Homo sapiens: one gene and its partner. The protein of the gene in region 1 interacts with the protein of each later gene in a biochemical or structural test. Each region holds a gene or a part of one and is shown on either strand. Other genes may lie near its edges.

Evidence for each region.
Region 2: the proteins of MEPE (region 1) and PHEX interact in a biophysical measurement, tested with the Homo sapiens proteins (one study listed by IntAct).

Annotation. Positions count from the first base shown.
Region 1 is NC_000004.12:87,826,658-87,838,277, reverse strand, and holds the start of MEPE (matrix extracellular phosphoglycoprotein isoform a precursor), read right to left. Parts: upstream 5,310-11,620; 5' UTR 5,264-5,309; intron 3,576-5,263; 5' UTR 3,564-3,575; coding exon 3,510-3,563; intron 1-3,509. UniProt on the Homo sapiens protein: Promotes renal phosphate excretion and inhibits intestinal phosphate absorption. Promotes bone mineralization by osteoblasts and cartilage mineralization by chondrocytes.
Region 2 is NC_000023.11:22,035,325-22,044,128, reverse strand, and holds part of PHEX (phosphate-regulating neutral endopeptidase PHEX), read right to left. Parts: intron 5,975-8,804; exon of another isoform or gene 5,735-5,974; intron 5,661-5,734; coding exon 5,592-5,660; intron 1-5,591. UniProt on the Homo sapiens protein: Peptidase that cleaves SIBLING (small integrin-binding ligand, N-linked glycoprotein)-derived ASARM peptides, thus regulating their biological activity. Cleaves ASARM peptides between Ser and Glu or Asp residues.

The DNA of each region.
Region 1 (11,620 bases):
TGGCAAACTGGGAGTTGTTAAATATAAGTGAACTAAAATCAGAGTTTGACGATTTAAATTGTGTGTGTGCATTAATTATATAAGTTGAGTAACTGTAATATTGAATTAAGATATGATGCTGCTGATGGCCCAGGGAGAGTCAAACCATAGCCGTTCATGTGAATGGTAGGATCGCAATTAAGGACAAAAACTTATTGCTGCCAGATGTTACATTCTGAGAAGGAAAAATGGAGGTGGCCAGCAGATTAGGATAAATTCTGTTTCTTGGTTTGACATAAAGTGTCAAAATTTCTTGAGGGTAGCGTAGGGTGAGGGGTAGCTATTGAAGCGCAGAAAGGGCAGAAATGAAGAAAGAACAGACCTCGGCAGTTTGTCCCAGTCCTTTGGGCTGAAGTTTGCATACCACAGGAAAGCACACAGAACAGGGACCCTAAAATCTGAGAGCAACTGTTTTATTAAAGGAATAGATGTAAGTTCTTTAATTCTCAGTATTTTTCATTTACCTCTTTCTTTCAGAAACTCCTAGCCTATCTCAGATGTGGCACTGGGAACCAATGGGCGGACTGGGCCGTGTTTGAATGGGTGTGCTACAGTGGAAGCAGGCATCATGGTGGATCAATCATATAAAAGAGAGAACCCCTTAAGGGAAAGATTGAATAAAGAGATAAACAGAAAGAGGGCCGCCTAGGCCAGCTGTCCTATTTACCTGGAAAGTGTTCTTCCTGAAGAAGCCTTAAGCTTCTATATTTTGTTTAATACAGACAGGTTGTTGCTTGCACTAAGATATTGGGAATGCCCCTGCTTGCTCTCAGCTCCTTTGTATCTCCAGCTCAATCTGAACTGATTCCTTCATTTCCCAAGCTCATTTGCCCTCTGTGTTCAGACTGGGTTTGGGTGAAGGAGGCCTGGCATGAGTCTGGAGGGGGGGAAGGAGAGAGAAGCCAGGGTATGTCCTTCTCTACTCTCCGTGTTTGGGGCTGCATCTCTAGAGTTGGGTACATCTCCTTTGTGGTCCTAGTTCCCCCAGCCAGGGGCCTAGGAGCAGCACCTTTTTTTTTCCTTCCAGCCCTAAGCCTGGTAATAGCTTCGATCCTTGGGTGGTCTCACCACCCCTGGTTGGCTTTTCTGTTCTTCCTTATACTTTATAGCTAGCTTCCCTTAGAAAGTCGCTCTACTGAGCTCCCTGTAGTGGATTTTGTTTTCTGGACTGGACTCTGGCAGATAAAATCATCTTCAAAATATAAAACTCAGAAGTTTAGAAAGCACCTCCATGGCTGGACTCCAAGGCATAGCTGCCTAATATTCAATTCCATTCTAGAAAATAACAATAGTTTATCAATAACACCTTCTATTTATAGGACTCTTTATAGTTTGTAAACTGCTTTTGTACTTATAATCTCATATGAGTCCCAAAGTAACCTTTATAAGATGAGCAGTAGAAGAAACAGAAGTGCCTACACTCATAGTTGGTAGTTGCAGTAGAAGTAGAGAAGATATTTTAATTTAAATCTTCTGCCTCAAAGTCCCAGGGTTAAAATAATAAATTTTTGAATGATTAAATATGAAAAAGCATTTAGTAATAAGAGGAAATGTTCCTAAACTTTATATTAATTATCGTCAAGGCATCTTTTATAGTTTTATCCTTTATTGCATTTCTTATGTTGATTCTTATATGATCATGTGAATATAAATTTGGACAATTATATCACTCTTCAAAAATATAAAACCAGGGCAAACAGTTCTGGAAATTGGACTATAGGAAGAAGAAAGCATAAAAATGAGATGGGCAGATATTAAGCAAAAGAAAGAAATGATAGTATGGGGTGTCAGGGATCTTCTTACAGAACACACACACACACACACATATGGATTAGAAACATACTTGACAATATAGAGTACCTCGGTACAGTTTTGATTTATTGTGACTTATAACAAAGTCTTTCTAGTCTAACTGCATCTTGATGAATATTAACCGAATTGCATAGCCTAATAAACATTCATTTTCTTCCTTTTAAAAATCATTTAGAATTTGGCTTATAATTCTAAGACGTATGCAAGTGGCTGAGTATATACTAATTTCTTAAGCCACCAATCTATCATTTAAAAATTCAGGTAATTACTAAAATGGCATCTATATACCTGGAAGAAAACATCATATTTAATGATTCACAGTTACAAATGTTGCCTCTGCATCCTTGCTGAGCTGCTTTCATTTGAAATACGCATCCCTCCCTTGTCCCCTCTATACCCCCAAGCAGATGTCTTAGGCTTGAATGTGGCCCTGTAATGGAGATGGCATTGTCTGCCTCTGGGCAGGAAAGCTGGCATCCTCTTCTGATCAGTGGTCACTGAATCAATGTTGACATAGCACATTTACTGGAAAATGATGAGAAAGCCCCACTCCAGCTGCTTCTTGGAACATGTTGCTCAAAATAAAATCTTCAGCTGGCCAACTTGAGCTAGGTCAGCAAGACTCATTTTTCCACCGTGAGAGGTGGGAGAGGCACCTGAGCCTCTAGGCCTTGATTGAGTGAGGTCTGTGCATGGGGTCTCGCAAATGTGTGTTGTGAGCAGTACAGCCTCCACAGTACTGTACTGCACACCCTTGTTGCACAGAGTGTGTGCGGAGAAGGGAACACATTTCCCCAACTTCCACTGCCCTCCATGAGGCCCTCTGCTTCCCTGGTCATCCTCATCAGCCTGGTTACCCTAGCAGTCACCCACTCACTCAGGACCTATATATAAGTATGATTGGCAATGGGATGACTATTTGTTTCCATGGTTCTCCAACCAAAAAGGTTATTCTGATAAGTTAGGATGCTGCTCAGACATTATCTAATTAGCACTGTGTCTGCATTGCAGAAAATAACTAACACTCAGCATTTTCACAAGATAATTTGGTCACATCCTGAATATTCAACTGGGTGAGTCAGAGGGAAGAAAAGACACACAAGGAAGTAGGAGCTTGATTTGGGTTAAGCTTGGAGGTACTACGTCCCACCTCTAGCCTCGCTGATGAAGAGAAAATCACAAGTAGGATCCCACAGTATTGGGGTGTTGCAAGAAATACAGAAGAGTTCTTGTCTCTTTGCATTTTTATCTATTTACTAAATCTAGCTGGTTAGCTTTAAAACATTCATGTCAAATTCTTTAAGTTTACAGGAAAATAGTCAAAGATTATTTTACCATGTTATAATTTGAGTCTTTGAGTATCACTCATTAGTATCAGCTGATTTGAAATGCTGCGGCTGCCTCTTGGTTTTCTCAAAAAATCTGTTTTTGGTGTTCCTTAAAAGACAATGTTGTCAGATCTCATAATTCAGCACATGTTTATTGAGAACCTCCTTTGTTAAGAGTGTTAAGTGCTAGATGCTTTCTGTTTGCTTGGTTCTTTTTAAAATAACTGAATTAGGTAGATGCTACTAATTTAAATAGACGTTGCTTGAAAGAAAAACAAATGAAGAGAGCAAGAGATTATCTGAAATATAATTGAATTTGTAAATACTTACTGGTGCTGCCCAGGTCACACTGAAAAGGAGTAGTCCCACACAGAAAACTCGCATCTTTGAGAATCTCTGTAAAAAGACAACAATATCTTACCACAAAGCATTGCCAGTTATAAACTGCAGCCATAAGAAGAGATAAAACACATAGGAATATATAAACACCCTTCCCCTTGGCAGTTCATATCCTTTTGTGTATGTGTGTGTATAGACTATGTATAACTTGCTTATACCCGAGTGTGGACATTTTAAGAACTTTCATATGTCTAGTTATTCCAATGTGAAAATGAAAATTATTCAATATCATTAAAACAGTAAAGTCAGTTGATAGAAATATATTTTATAGACACATTTATTTGCTCTATCATCAGCTCTTCTTCCTCTTGTCTTTAGAAAGAGATTGTTTAATTATTTGTGTAATTCAAAATGACATTAAGTTGATGTAGCAGCTCATAACACACTCTAAGTTTGTCAGGGTAGCAGATTGCACTGTGAGGAAAGCTTATCTGCCTCCGGGCTGGTGCCCTAATCTGTGTCTCATGTTCATTAGCAATGTGTCTGAATTAGTAGCCATCCATGGGCTGGAGAGTGAACTAATTTTTGCAACACTGACATTAATGGCTAACATTTATTGAATACTAAAATGAGCCAAGCACTGGGTCTAAGAATTTTGCATGCATTCAATTATTTGAGCCTCACAACAACCCTACAAGTTAGGCGGCGTTACTATGCCTGTTGTATAGATTAGGAAATAGACACAAAAAGATCAAATAACTTGCTTTAGAATTCACAAATATTAAGGGGCAGAACTGGGATTAGTATCCAGGCAATGTGGCTCTAGACCCAGTTTTCTTCATCAAGACTCTCTGCCACCTTAAATAACTTTCTATTCTTTTATCTTATTACAGAAAAATCCATGTACAGTTGACTTAAAGGCAAATCATATTTTATATTGGGCTCAACAAAATGATGTTCAAAATACTAACATTTAGTTACAAATAAAGGTATTTGTTTATATTTTGGTAAATATACCAACAGGAACTAGTGAGCTCACTTAAGTAGCCATTAGATTGGAAAAAAGTCAACATGTCTTTGGACTATTGATCTTATTATTATATTGTGAAAACAATAAATTTATGCCACTCTGAGATTTCTTGAAGAAAAACTTGTTTTTATGGGAAAAAATAATCTAAATATTCTTGCAATCTTTAAACACCTCAAGGAAAAGCTGGTATTTGGAGAAATGATTGTAACTATTAAATATATTCTAAAATCCTAGGCTATGTTTTTCTAAATTAATGCAATTAGAAGGATCTAAATTCTAACTATAGTTTACCCTTCCAAGCATTTTATAGATCAGGACAACGTAAGTAACTTATGAAATGAGTTAATGCTCATCAGTAGAAATATCAACACAGATGAGGTTTCAAAGTATGAATAAGATCAGATTTTCCTGATTGCAGTTTGTTAAGTGAAGGGATAGAAGAAAACTGAAGTCTGAGTTACTGTGGATCTTGATAATGCTAATAACAAAAAAAAAGAGAAAGTTGCTATCAAATCATCAATTTTAGTTGATGATTTCTAGAGCATGGTAACGCATTTCCTATTTTATAAAACAAAGCACCAAATATTACACAGTTTTGCTCAGTAGAGAAGATTTTCAAAAGTAATAAAACCATACTTGGGTGGCAAGCATCTTAAAAACGTAAACAACTATGATATAAAGCTATTTGCTGTCAAGAACATGAAAGCCAAATTACCTGGTATCTTTCACCTTCAGAATACCTGGCTTCTTGTTGCAGGATTAGAAGTCTCTGGGCATTTTGCTGAAATTTAAAGTTTGTTAGAGTTCCCAATGGCCAATCAGCACTGGCTCACTCAGCGCTAGCAAACAATTTGTTACAAGCGCCCACAGATAACCATAGGGGGTGAAGTAATTTTAATCTAAAAATGTGTTTGTGGTAGAAAGCTACTATCAAATGTTCCAGAAAGTGGGATAAACAGAAAATATAAATACCTCAGTTTGGACATCATGTTGTCAGATAATCAAAATTGATTTCAGAACTGCTAATTAGGACTGACTGAATACCTAACAAGTTTAGAAATGGAAAACATTTTTGCTATCCTTTTATGTAGAAAGTTTATGATGTCAATTTTATCTAAGTGAAATTCAGCAACATTTAACAAAAATGTTTTAGGTGCCTACTGTGTGACAGGCATTGGCGAAACTGCAGTGAACAAAACAAGACAGAAAAAAATCCCTGTCTTCCTGGAGCTTAGAATCCAATAAGGGAGACAGATAATAAACAAGATAAATGAGTTAAATAGATTAGATAGTGACATATACTAAGTCTAAGGAGAAAAAGTATTGTTGGGGAGTAACAAGCATTGGGGGTGGGGACACTGGGTTGAAATTTTAGATAGGAAGTCCTGGGAAGGCCTCAATGAGAAGGCAACTTTTGAGTAAAGACCTTGTTATGGTTTCAATGTACGTGTCCCTCCAAAATTCCCATGTTAGAACTTAAACCCAAGGTGACAGTATTGAGAGATGGGCTCTTTAGAAGGTGATTAAGTCATGAAGGCAGACCCCAGTATGAATGGGATTAATGACCTTATAAAAGGGCAAGAAGAAACTAGCTAGTCCCTTTTTGCCCTTCTGCTTGTCTGCAGTGTGAAGACACAGCATTTGTCCCCTCTGGAGATGCAGTAGCAAGGTGCCAAATTGGAAGAAGAGATAGACAGCCCTCGTCAGGCAATGAACATGCTGGCCTCTTCATTGCGGAATTCCCAGCCTCCAGAACTGTGTGAAATAAATTTCTGTTTTTTATAAATTACCCAGTCTGTGGTATTCTGTAGTAGCAGCATGAACAGACTCAGATAAGCCTGCAGCCATATGACTGTCTATGGGAAGACCATTCCAGGAAGAAGAAATAAGAAAAATAGTGCCCCAGAAATAAAAGCCTTGTGACTTGTTCCAGGAACAGAGAAGAGGCCACTTTGGTTGGAGGCCTGAGCAAGGGGAATAGCAACAAATGAGGTCAGAAGGGTATTAGATGGCAGATGGTATAGGACCTGTAGGTCATTGCAATGCTTTTGACATTGCTATGAGTGAGAAGAAAAGTCCTTGGAGGTTTTAAGCACAGGCATGATTGAGGAGTGACTGAAGTAGGAAAAAGGCAGAGAGAATGGCTAGGAAGCTCTTGTAATAATCCCAGCCAGAGATGATGGAGGCTTGAACCTGAGTGCGGCAGAAGGGATGATGAGACGTGGTCATATTCTGAAGAAGTTTGGGGAAAAATGGTAATAGGATTTGCTGAGGTACCAGATGTGGCCTGTGAGAAAACAATCAAGAATCAGGATGACACCAAGGTTTTGACCTGAGCAACTGGAAGAGTAAAGTTGATTTTTTCTTCATATTGGAAAAAATGCAGAAGAAAATGGTTTTGAGGAAAATATTGTGAGTTTGGATTTAGACAAATTTTATAAGATGGACAATTTAAGACACTCAATTTCTTAATGAAACAAGTAACAAACCTATACTAGAATAAGCCTTTCCAGTGCGATTGCCTGCTCTCTTGTTTTGCCCAAACTGGCTACCAAAATAATTGTAATAGTTTGAGAGGTTCCACTTAATATAAAAATATTATAATACCTGTAAAGGTCATTGACATTATGACTATATATTAAAGCATCAATAAGAAATTATGTAAGAGTTATTTAACCTATACTTTGTGATAAGAACTACCTACAGTGAAACACACCTTTAACAGTTGTATATTATATATACAAATGATATATAATAAGATTTAAGTGTAAACTGTCAATTTATCTCAACCCTCCAAATAGACAAAAACCAAAACATAAAACACAAACAAAACAGTATTTCATAAGTTCTACCTGAGAAAATGGTGCCTTTTCTAGGTCAAGCTAACTCTCTCTTTTTTTTTTTTTATCATATCTAAATTCTGCTGTTCCTCTTTTGAGTATCCAGAGCTGCTTTTCCTCCTCTCCCTCACCTCATGTCTTCTTGTTAAAAAAATTTTTATTTAGGTTTGGAGGTACATGTGAAGGTTCATTACATAGATAAACACATGTCCCTGGGGTTTGTTGTACATATTACTACATCACCCAGGTATTAAGCTCAGTACCCAATAGTTATCTTTTCTGTTCCTCTCCTTCTTCCCACCCTTCACCCTCAAGTAGACCCCAATGTCTGTTGTTTCCTTCTTTGTGTTCATAAGTTCTTATCATTTAGCTCCCACTTATAAGTGAGAACATGTGGTATTTGGTTTTCTGTTCCTGCGTTAGTTTGCTGAAGATAATGGCCTCCAGCTCCAGCCATGTTCCCACAAAGGACATGATCTCTTTCATTTTTATAGCTGCATAATATTCCATGGTGTATACATACCACATTTTCTTTATCCAGTCTGTCACTGATAGGCATTTAAGTTGATTCCATGTCTTTCCCATTGTGAACAGGGCTGCAATGAACAGCCGTGTGCATGTGTCTTTATGGAAGAATGTGTTATATTCCTCCGGGTATATACCCAGTAATGGGATTACTGGATCAAACAGTAGTTCTGCTTTTACAGAACTGCTTTTAAGAACATCTTCCAGGACTAGGTTTGAGCTATTGGGTGGGGCCACTGTTGACTTACAACCATTCAAGCATAGATTTTAGAATATTTGAATATTGTCATTGACAGTGGAAATATTGAACTCTAGAACTCTAGTAGCTTTGGAGGCAAACAGACTTGAGTTCAAATCCTGACTCTACCACCTGTTTACTGTGGCAAGTTGATTAAACAACTAATTTGAACTTTTCTGTGCCTCAGTTTCTCCAACTGAAAATAAGGAGCACAGTATCCATGACCAGAATTTCAGCAAAGTCCAAAAAAAAAAAAAAAAAGGATTTGGGTGATATAGAAAGGAGCTAACAAGGGAATGGAAGTCAAGGAAGGAAAGAAGGCAACAAAGAGTGTTCAGCCAACTCTGAGACTGAATGGAAATATAGAGCTTTCTAAATGGAAGACAAGTGAAATCCACAAAAAATGCTCATTTTCAACTTTGGATATGCTATTGAAGCAATAAATAATTCAGGAATTTCTATAATAATGTGTATATAATGCAGTGTTTTAAGCTGTTACACTGTTTCATAACATTAACTTTATATTTTGAATGATCCAGTTATAGAGCAAACACTTGATATGTGCCTTAGGAAATGTTCATTTTTTTATTGCTATAATTTTATAAATAATTTCAGATATTCCTCAAATGCATTTTTCTTAGTTTCAAATAAATTTCAGTGTGCATGAAAAAGATTTCCCTTTCATTTGAGTGATGGAAAATTAATTATGATCTAGAAAAACCTGTGTTCTAGGATAAGAAAATTTATAGAGTTTTAAGAGAAAAAAACTGGCTTAGCTACTAGTCCTACCAAGGGGTGAACTGGCAGTAGCTAAATATACTGCTCTCAAAGCTAAAATGAATTCAAAGCTACATAAAAAAATTCAACTTGAGTTTTAAATTTAGAACCTACAATTGACAAAAGCAAAAAAAAATGAGAGCCTATTCTGGCTAGAAGGTTGCAGAGAAGAAATTCTGGGGAAAAAAAATTAGGAGAATGATCCTTTGCCTAAGTTCCATGCAGTAGAGATTTTTACTTCTACCCTCTTAAAACTTGCCCTCTGTGTTGAAATTGAACTTCAAAAACTCAATATAAGTTTCCTAAAGGTTATTGTATAATAGAGAGTTTTGCCATGGCATTTCTAAGGAACCAATAACTGAAGTTAAAACCAGGAGTCTGTAAAAAAAATATGTATCTTCACACCATCTCTATTTAACTGGAAAACAAAACAAAACAAAGAAAAATGGGAAACAACTGAGAAGGGAAAGAAATGGACACTTGAACTTTTTTCTGGTTCCTCGTTCCTGGTTCAAAAATGGACACCTCCACCAATGATGCACCTAGCCTGACTTTGCTGGGTCAGACTGACACACAGAGTTGCTCCTCAAAGAGAATCTGGAAGGAAGTACTCCATGGAACATGCTTCATCCTGTCGTGGGTTTTTCATTTCTTATCGATCACTTGAGTGTGAACAATCATATAAAATGCTAGCTAACTAGGAACCTATACTATCAGTTCCAGCTATTAGACTCTCACCCAGGAATAAGGCTTTTTTGTTTGTTTGTTTTATTTTCTCATCTATTTCTAGGACCCATCTTTTCTGTACTTGTGCTCTGGGATTAATTGCTTTGGTATACATTTTTTTTTAAACTTAGTATTCTAGGAAGTCCTTTTTCCCCTGCTATCATGGTCCCCAATTTATTCTTGACTCTATTAAGGTAACACATTTCTCTGTCATCATTTTAGACAGACTCACACAATACACTTTTCCATATGTTCTAACTAAAATAAGTTTCTGTTTTACATATACAATATACTTTTCTGTATGTTCTAACTTGCCAAAATAACTCTCTATCTTCTAATTTACATACATTACAAATATACAGTATTTCCCCTCCTGGATCAGTGGGGAAGTCTTTGAAGTGTTGTGAATAGAACAGAGGGGTCCATGTTGAGTAATCTCTTCTTTACCATACAGATGCTTAGATTGGTCAAGGCTTTAGGCATTTCATAGAAGTATTTACTTCCCACTGATATCCAAAATAAGAGTCCAGAATGAGTGTGCTGGGAGTCTTGCCCTGTTTTTAGCAGAAGGAATGTTTTCATTTTAAACGTGTTCATTCATGAGTATCAATAATCATCCTAAGCTCAAAAAGGTCACCTTTTCTAAAGCATCACTTACAACCAACTTTCTCCTTTACCCTCAAATTAATTTTATTTTTAGTTATTATTTTTTCTGTCAGCATTTGGGAATTTCAACAGAAGCCATAAAAATTTCAGCCAGATGCAGAATCATGGAGGGTCACAGCAGAGCATGAAGTTAGCTGTGTTCATTCCTCTGGGCTTTTTGTTTACCCATTCCTCTATTACAAGCAAAGAGAAGACATGTCAATATAATTTGCTTTTATTTTTATATTAGAGAGATGTCTTACTCCACCTTAAAATGTAACTCAGAGGATGTAGTTAAAATATAATTATAATGATGCTAGCCCTTTCCTTCAGGACATGGTGACATTGCTGGAAGTGGCTGCAAAACTTTGTTGTGTGACCTCAAGAGGAAAATATCTCTTACCCTCATAATAGTCTTTTTCAGAGGTTGCTGTTTTGTTTTTCAAGACCAAGAATCTTCTTCTCAGGATACAGAACTTGAGGACTTTTACCAGCTAGCTATTCATTGTATCGAACATGTATTAATATTTTCTTACCAAATTAGGGTGTATATCGTCTTAGCTTATTTTTAATTCCATGTTTATCTGCATTGTGTTATCATTTTATTTTATCTCTTTTTTCATGAATTCCTTAATTCTCACCAACCCAGATTTTCTCTATGCTTGTCAGTTCCTGTTCCAGTTATCTGTTGCTATAAACATACCACCTTAAAACTTTTCGTAGTTTGAAATACAAATTCACTGTTTTCTCTCAAGGTTCTGTGTGTTGACTTGGCTCAGCTGCATGATTCTCACTTGTGATTTCTCAAATGGCACAGTCAGAGATGGGGTGCAAGAGTCATCCCAAAACTTGACTGAGCTGCACATCCGATATGCCACAGTGCTTCTCCACATGATCACTCTGTCCTGCAGAATAGGCTGGACTTCCTATATGGTAGCTCAGGATTTAAAATGCTCAGTCAGAAATGGGATCTAATTAAACTAAAGAGCTTCTGCACAGCAAAAGAATCTATCATCCGAGTGAATAGACAACCCACAGAATGGGAAAAAATGTTTGCAATCTATCCATCTGACAAAGGTCTAATATCCAGAGTCTATAAGAAACTTAAACAAATTTACAAGAAAAAAACAAAAACCAACAGCCCCATTAAAAAGTGGGGAAAGAACATAATTAGACACTTTAGAAAAGAAGACATACATGTGGCCAGCAAATACGTGAAAAAAAGCTCAACATCCCCACTGATCATTACAGAAATGCAAATCAAAACCACAATGAGATACCATCTCACACGTCACAATTACTATTATTAAAAAGTCAAAAA
Region 2 (8,804 bases), on another chromosome or scaffold:
CCTAGAAAAACTGCAAGGTCAGCTCTGACCTTGGCCCTGATACAAAAGTTGGGAAATACATCACTCACATTGAATTTGGAAAGAAGCCTGCTGAGTGAGAAAACTCTAGTTGCAGCCTCCCAATTCATCATTCACAATTCACAGCGGGGCACAGGGCTGCACTTTCTGCAGGGGAACTGTGACTTCAAATTGCAAGGGACCATAGTTGTCAAGACACCAAAACGCCTTTCCCCCTACTCAGCTCCATGGAGAAAACCCAGAGTCTTGTTTTAATAAAAGAAATATGATGATGAAGGAAATCTGTGAAAGCTCAGGCTGTGTACTCTTCCAAGTCACTATATATAAGGTTAATTGTCACACAGTCACCAGTTGCTGTTTGTGTGGTAGAGGTGGAGGCATCCTCCCTAAATACCAGCCTCTGTTTTTAGATTTAATCAAGGATGAAGGGAGAGAGTAGTAATAATAATAATTAACAATAATAAAATCACCAATATTGAGTATTTCCTTTTTGCCAGGACCTACGCTAAGCCCTTTTTTAGCAATATGGTATCGTCACAAACTCTAGTCAGACCACTTGTGTTTGAATGAGAGAAACACCATGCAGCAGCTAAGACACCTTAGGCAGGTGATTTAACCTGTGTCTTAGTTTCCTCACCTGAAAATGGGGATAATAATAGCACCCCATGGAATCATTATGCAAATTAAATATATGTAAAGTGCTTAGAATAGTGTTGGGCACATTACCATATAAATGCATGATGCCCAGTGAAGTCTGAATTTCTGATAAACAACCACCTTTTAGAATAAGTAGGTACCAAATAGTCCATGAGACATACACCAGAAAAAGTAGTCATTGTGTATCTGCAATCAAATTTCACTAAGCATCCTGTATGTACGTATGTATGTAGTTAGCTAAATCTGGGAACTGTAATTCCACAATCACTTATCTGAAACTCTTGAGGTTAGATATGTTTCAGAGCTCATAGATTTTTCAGATTTTAGAAAATAAATACATTGCATATAACCACAGATCATGTAATACTTCAGCAATGGCTGGAGTGGCAGGCCTGAAGCAAGTGCATTAATGTTTCTATAGGGAAACATATGCATATTCTTGTAAGTAGGATAAATGAAATCTGAAGCAGCCTCACATGAGTTAAGATCCAATTTTGCCATCAAAGGAATTGAGATCAGGCCCCCATCTTGCCAACTGAGAGTTACATCGTTTTCTGGGTTTGGGGTTAAGAATCAGCATTGTGAACCTAAATTACTGCTACTACCATTATTATTTTCTTTTTCTAATTTTTTTTTTTTGAGGCGGAGTCTCACTATGTTGCCCAGGCTGAACTGCAACCTCCCCCTTGGGGTTGAAGTGCAGATTCAACCTGCAATCTCGGCTCACTGCAACCTCCACCTCCCAGGTTCAAGTGATTGTCCTGCCTCGGCCTCCCAGGTAGCTGGGATTACAGACTTGCGCCACCACGCCTGGCTAATTTTTGTATTTTTAGTAGACATGGAGTTTCACCATGTTGGCCAGACTGGTCTTGAACTCCTGGCCTGAAGTGATCTGTCCGCCTCAGCGTCCCAAAGTGCTGGGGTGGCAGGCGAGAGCCACCGTGCCCAGTCCATTATTATTTTCTTTTATTCTCACGACTAGTATAAGTAAAACCTGTTATTCCCATTTCACACTTGGTGAGACTGAGGCTTAGCGTGGCTATATATTTAGCCCAGGATCATGTGGCTTGTAAATAGCTAAATCATGCTTCAAACCCAGTCAGCCTGTCTGCCCTTATCTGTGATCATGAGCATGCATGCCCTTTCCTTGTTTCTTTGCATTCTTTGCACAGCTCTTATTTTGAAAGAGGGATTAAAATAAGAGGACACAGAGAAGAGGAGAGTTATGGAGAGGAAGCATCTCAGAAGTGGTTGGCACCTGCTCAGAAATGGTCCAGAAGGCGATCAAACACTCTAGTCTTCTGAACTTTCAGCATGCACGCCCACGCACGCACAGCCTCTTGTTTAAGGCCCTGGCTTGGCCGTAATTCTCCTGCCATGTGTACTCACAGCTGTTCTGCAGACCCCTGGGCACACTGAGGCTCACGTTACACTAAAGAGAACTGGGTCTTTGGTGAGCCTTTCACTCCAGAAACAGCAAAATCAATATTTTTTTTCAACATTAGAAAGCCATTCGCCAATGTGAAAATTAAAAACAGGACAGCAAGGCAGAACACACTAGCTGGCAGAAGGCAACATCTTTGAATGTCAGTCTGTAAGTTTTAGTCTTGCATTATTATGATTCATAATACAGAACTAAAACTCATGAAATAAGTGGCCTTCCATACAAAAAAGTGTTCTAAACTCAAGTTGAAAATTTATGAGCTCAAAAATTCCCATTTCACACATCTGCAAGAACCCCACCACAGCCAAAGCACCAGGTGACATAAACTCTAAAACCTGTCCTGATAGTTCCGCCTGCTCTCTCACCCCACTCCATGACAATCTCTCACCACTGGAGAAAACCTCAGGTCAACTACTCAAGCCTGGAGCAGGAAAGGGCCTGGGAGTTCTCAGATAGTTCCAGGGCCAAAAAGAGTTGCCTGGCATGGCCCCATATCACCAAGGAAAAGACGGAAAGGAGCCAGACATGGACACGAAGTCCAGCTCTGCTACTAACTCAGGATGAGACCCTGGGCAGTTATTTAGCCTCCAGAAGCCTCCATTTCCTCATCTGTCAGTGAGGCTGGTGATAGCACTGACTTCATAGGGGTCTTATGAAGGTTTTATGAGATGGTGCCTGTAAGGCACTCAACACACAGCCTGGTTAAAATATATATATATATATATATATATATATATATATATAGAGAGAGAGAGAGAGAGAGAGAGATCACTTAAGAATGGAACAAAAAAAGAACTCTACTAACATAATTATCTAAGCCACTACCTTTGTATAAGGTCTCCGAATTTACAAGCTCTTTCACCTAAGTGTTTCCCATCTCAATAAACACCACTGCCCAACCATCACCAAAAATCTAAGCGTCACCCACAATTGTCTGCTTTTGTTCACAGCCTGCATCGAATCCTTCAATAGGCCCTCTACCTCCTAAACCTTCCCCCATTCTCCCTCTCCATCTCTTGAATTCAAGACAGCATCGTCTGTCACCTGGCGTACAGAAATAAACCTACTTGAGTCACCTTCTTCTATTCTTGCTCCCTATGGTCTCTTCTCCATCAAGAAAGACTCCCTCTAACTGAGCCCTCCACCGAGACATCTTTTGAAATGCTCCTAAGATGTATTCTCTTTCATAAAAGCCTCCAGAGGCTTTCGAGCACACTTAAGGAAAGCCCAAACTCACTGGCACTTGGGTCCCCCATTGACTCCTCATCACTTGCACCTCACCTAGCAAGCTCCTCCCGTTCCTCAAGTCCACCAAGTTCATGCTTCTATGCACCCTTTGCCCCATCTGTTCCCCCCACCTGGAAAGCCCTTGCCTCAGTCTTCACACAGCAGTTCCCTCCTCATCATTCAAAGGTCACCTCCAAGGTCATGTCCTCCGGCTTTTCAATCTAGCCATCCTGTCACTTGCTATCACATTGTTCTATCTTTTTTTTAATTTTCTCTATAACATTTTCCACTGACTGATATTCCTCTTTCTTTCTTTCAGAGATGGGGTCTCACTAATTTGCCCAGGCTGGCCTCCAACTCCAGGGCTCAAGCCTCAGCCTCCCATGTGGCTGGAACTAAAGGCACGTGTCACCACACCCAGTTTCATAATTTTCTCATTGTATTAATTGCCTTATTGTCTTTCTTCCCATACCTGGTTCACTGCTCTATTTCCAAAACCTAACTCAGTACCTCATGTGCAACAAATATTTGGTGAATTTGTTCATTAACCTTTTAAGGCCAAGAGGAAAGTGAAAGGGCCACATGCTTGTTTGATGACTTTCCTTTTGGAAAAAGGAAAAAAGTGTCCCTGCCCACTTAAAGAATGAGGGTGAGGGCTAGAATCTGGCTCCCTGAAATCTAGGCCCTAACACTGATTTAGGAGGGAAATCTAATAGCTGTGTGTGGGACCCCCAGGTTTCCCCTCACCTCCCCACCGCCGCTTTCGGTGTCCTAACCAAAAATTACACAATCCCCTGACCACTCTGTGACCCAGCCACCTGCAGGTTTGTTTTGTTTTGTTTTTTTTGAGACAGAAGTTCCCTCTGTCACCGAGGCTGGAGTGCAATGGTGCAATCTCAGCTCACTGCAGCCTCCGCCTCCTGGGCTCAAGCAATTCTCATGCCTCAGCCTCCCGAGTAACTGAGATTACAGGCATGAGCCACCATGCCCGGCTAATTCCAGCTGCTGGTTTTTCCCAGCAGGCTTAGGTCCAGACTGGACCCTTGAACATTCCCAGGCACTGATAAAGGTATCTAGGTTGATGCACAAAACACTGAAAGAAACTAGTACCGGCTCTGAGCCAAATTCCTTAAACCCGCATATAGTCTCCACACCCTAATGCCCTAAGTAGAACACCCCTTTTCTCTCACTGTCTTGAGGATACACTGCAGCACTTTCAACATAAGTTGCACTAATAAATGCTTTGGACTGACCGGCCGCCCTGGCATTTATTTAGTGCTTCTTTCTTTGGAATCCCAACTGGCCCCATCTCGGGATGGGATATTCCCTCATGGGAATTTCCCTGTTGCTGCTTTTGGGGCAACTCCAGCCATGAGTTTGATGGGATAAGACACTGTGGCAAAACTGCGGCCACTTTAAACACTCATCTTCACCCTGGGATATCCACTGATACACAGCCTGGTCACCTCAAGAGAAGTTTGACTTGCAACGTGTGACAGAAAAAAGAGATTCCCAGCCGGGCACAGTGGCTCTTGCCTGTAATCCCAGCACTTTGGGAGGCCAAGGCGGGTGGATCACTTGAGGTCAGGAGTTCGAGATCAGTGTGGCCAACAAGGTGAAACTCCGTCTCTACTAGAAATACAAAAATCAGCCGGGCGTGGTGGTGGGCACTTGTAATCCCAGCTACTAGGGAGGCTGAGGCAGGAGAATCACTTGAGCCCAGGAGGTGGAGGATGCAGTGAGCTGAGATCGTGCCAGCCTGGGCGACAGAGCAAGACTCCGTCTCAATTTTTAAAAAAGAGAAAAGGGACTCCCACTGACAATGGAAGCGTGGATTTATTTGCAAAGGAGCCTTGCTTAGAGGCAGGCAAGTCAGACCCACAGACCAGAAGATAGGCAACTGCTTAAGGTAAAGAGGAATTCATAGCCAGCGGAGCCATAGGAAGACCAATGTTCTCTGCCTGTGGGTCTTAAGAGAGGCCATTCAGCCTTCCAAGCCCCTTCCTGATTTCCTTGTAACAACGCTTAGAATACCACAGTTTTTGCAAGGAAAAAGAAAACAGGAAACCTAAGCTCCACTGTTTCACACCAAAACTTGAAAATAAACTTAAAATTTCTTCAAAATTGCATTTCGTACTTGGTAAACCTCAAGCAAACAGAATACTAAAAATACCACCTGTCTTCTCTTCCACTTCCCAAGGTACCATAATTATAACTTGACACAGGATGGAAAACTGTGACTTACCCGCTTCGATGCATTCTGGCTTCAGGCAGTACTCCTGTTTAGCTTGGAGACTTAAGAGACCTTGACTCACTGAAAAAACAGACCACAATAAATGGCTGAGTTGTAGCAGACCACCATCCGGTAAACCACCCTCGGAAACATACGCAAGATATTTGATATCAGTTCATCCTTCTCAGTGTTGACACGGTATTCCAAAACCCAGTTGGTTCAATGTCACGAAACCAGACTCTAGCTGCTAGCTAAATAACCTTGGTAAGACTCTTGGTTGCTTTGAAACTCAGTTCTCTCGTACGTAAGATAAGTGAGTATAACTAGACCAGAGCTCCTAAGAGTGTGGTCTCTAGAGCAGCAGCAGCTGCTGCTGCTGCACCTGGAAGCTTGTTAGAAAGCCACTCCAAGATCTTGACTCAGAAACCCTGGGGGTGGGGCCCAGCCATCTGCGGTTTAACAAGCCCCCCAGGTGATTCCGATACATGCTCAAATATGAGCACCACTGGGCGAGACACTCTCTAAAGTCGCTTCAGCCTCCAATTATCAGTGGTTTAAGTCTCATACTTTCACTCTATTGGTTTATAACTCCATGCCCATGTTCAAGATGGGAAAATTGAAACTTTTAAACTATGTCATTTGGAGCCAATCAGAGTGGAAATAGAAAGCTAGCATGTTTGGCTTTTAGAGTTCTGGATCTTATCTAAACCATCCATACAGATACGGACCAAAAAAGGGGTAGGGGTAAAGAATATACTGAACATATCTCAATCACCTATTGATAGCAACAGTCATTGTCCGCCTGCCCTGAACCCCACAAACTCTCCGCCCACCAGGCCCAGCTTAGCTACCAGACATTTGCAACTTTGTGGACCAAGCTTCCAGCTATTTCCTCCCTTCCCCCACTCCAAAAAAAAAAAAGTCTAAAATTGAAATAGCTTTTCACCAATGGCTTAATATCTCCATCTGCCTGGCAACATTATCTAAATAGGTGTCTGCAGAAGTACAGAAGGGTGCCCAATTTGTCAACCCCAGGTAGCACCTGGGCATTAGCAGATGTTAGTTTAAGATTTCAAAAGTATTTGTAGTAGCTGAGGAAATTCTGGGGAATTCATTCTTGCTGTGCTCTGTGAGCAGAAACAATGAATCATTTGGAGATGTGGCCATGGGGAGAGGGATGGTGGGAGGTGAATGGGGACCAAGGCCCTCTGTGGCAGAAAGCTCGGCAGTACCTATATTTCTGCTAGAGATGGAAGACCTGTAGATTACTACCCAGTGTGGCGAGTTTTTATTATTTATTAACCCACTCTCTAAATGGAGCCTGCTTTTCCTTTGTTCTTTTTCTCTGCTGCCATCCTCCAAACAGCCTCTTTGCATTGCATTGTGTTACATTAGAGATTCAAGAAAACTGCCGATGAAACATCTCAGTCCTATTTTTTTTTTTTTTTTCGAGACAAGAGTCTCACTCTGTCACCCAGGCTGGAGTGCAGTGGGGTGATCTTGGCTCACTGCAAGCTCTGCCTCCCGGGTTCACGCCATTCTCCTGCCTCAGCCTCCCGAGTAGCTGGGACTACAGGCACCCGCCACCACGCCCGGCTAATTTTTTTGTATTTTTTAGTGGAGATGGGGTTTCACCGTGTTAGCCAGGATGGTCTCGATCTCCTAACCTCATGATCCGCCCGCCTCGACCTCCCAAAGTGCTGGGATTACAGGTGTGAGCCACTGCGCCTGGCCCATCTCAGTCCTGTTTTTAAGAAAATAAGTTTCTTAGCAAAAAGGTGTGTTTTGATTTCTGTATAAAGCAAAAAAAAAAAAAAAGTTATGTAAAAAAATATATATGGGCAGCATAAAGATTAGTGTGCAATATTCCAATATGCCTGGGTGGCAGAACCTCAGGGGGAATTTTCCCCATCAGTCAATTTTTATATGTTGACCTAATGTTCTTTAGTGAGCATGTGTTCTTTTATATAATGCAAAAATAAGCTTTATTGTAAATAATATTTTTATAATTCTGGACAATACCTTCTTGATCCTAGCCTTATTTTAAAAAACAAAATAGCTAATAAAATCGTTAAAGACTTATTCCTTTCATGAGAGATAATTCTTGACCCAAAACCTCAAAGGAAGAAGTAAAATCAGGTATCTTTATCTAACGATGAGCAGAAGGAAGGTTTTAAATATAACTAATTAGGCCAGGCACGGTGGCTCAGGCCTGCAATCCCAGCACTTTGGGTGGCCGAGGTGGGCGGATCACCTGAGGTCAGGAGTTCGAGACCAGCCTGGCCAACATGGTGAAACCCCATCTCTACTAAAAATACAAATCTTAGCTGGGCGTGGTGGTGCACGCCTGTAATCCCAGCTACTCAGGAGGCTGAGGCAGGATAATTGCTTGAACCCAGGAGGCGGAGGTTGTAGCGAGCCAAGATCGCACCACTGCACTCCAGCCTGGGTGACAGAGTGAGACTCCGTCTCAAAAAAAAAAAAAAAAAAAAAAATATATATATATATATATATGTACGTGTGTGTGTGTGTGTGTGTGTGTGTGTGTGTATAATTAATTAATTGGGACACTGACAGACCCAACCCCTCAAGGAAGAGCATTATCTCCATGGATGGGGTTATTTTAAAATTCTCCAAATAAATGAGGATCAATAAGCCCAGATAATGTGAAGGTGTAAGTGAATGAAATAGAGACAATAAAGAAAATATTTTTAATATAAAAATTAAGATGTTACTTTTGAATGGTTAGGAGCTTTAAAAAATACATGTAAATAGCAGTTTGGTTTCTCATTGTAGATTTCTCTATAACCAGAGGAAATGCCCTTAGGATGCAGTGGAGTCATCCACAGATCAAGAGCATAAGAATGGCCAGAAAGCAGGGGTCAGCAAACTATGGCCTGTAGGTCAAATCCATTGCCTGTTTCTGTACAGCCCATGAGCTATGAATGGCTTTTACATTTTTTTCATGGTCAGGAAAAATAAAAAGGAAAATAATATTTCATGACATATGAAAAGTATATAACATTCCAATTTCAGTGTCTAGAAATCAGATTTTCTTGGCACACAGCCATGCCCATTTGTGTACATATTGTCTATGGATGCTTTTGTGCAACAACAGCAGAATTGAGTAGTTGCAAGAGGCCGTATGGCCCACAGAGCCAAATATATTCACTATCTATCTGGCTCTTGGCAGAAAAAGTTTGCCAGCCAGTGCATCTGAGAAAC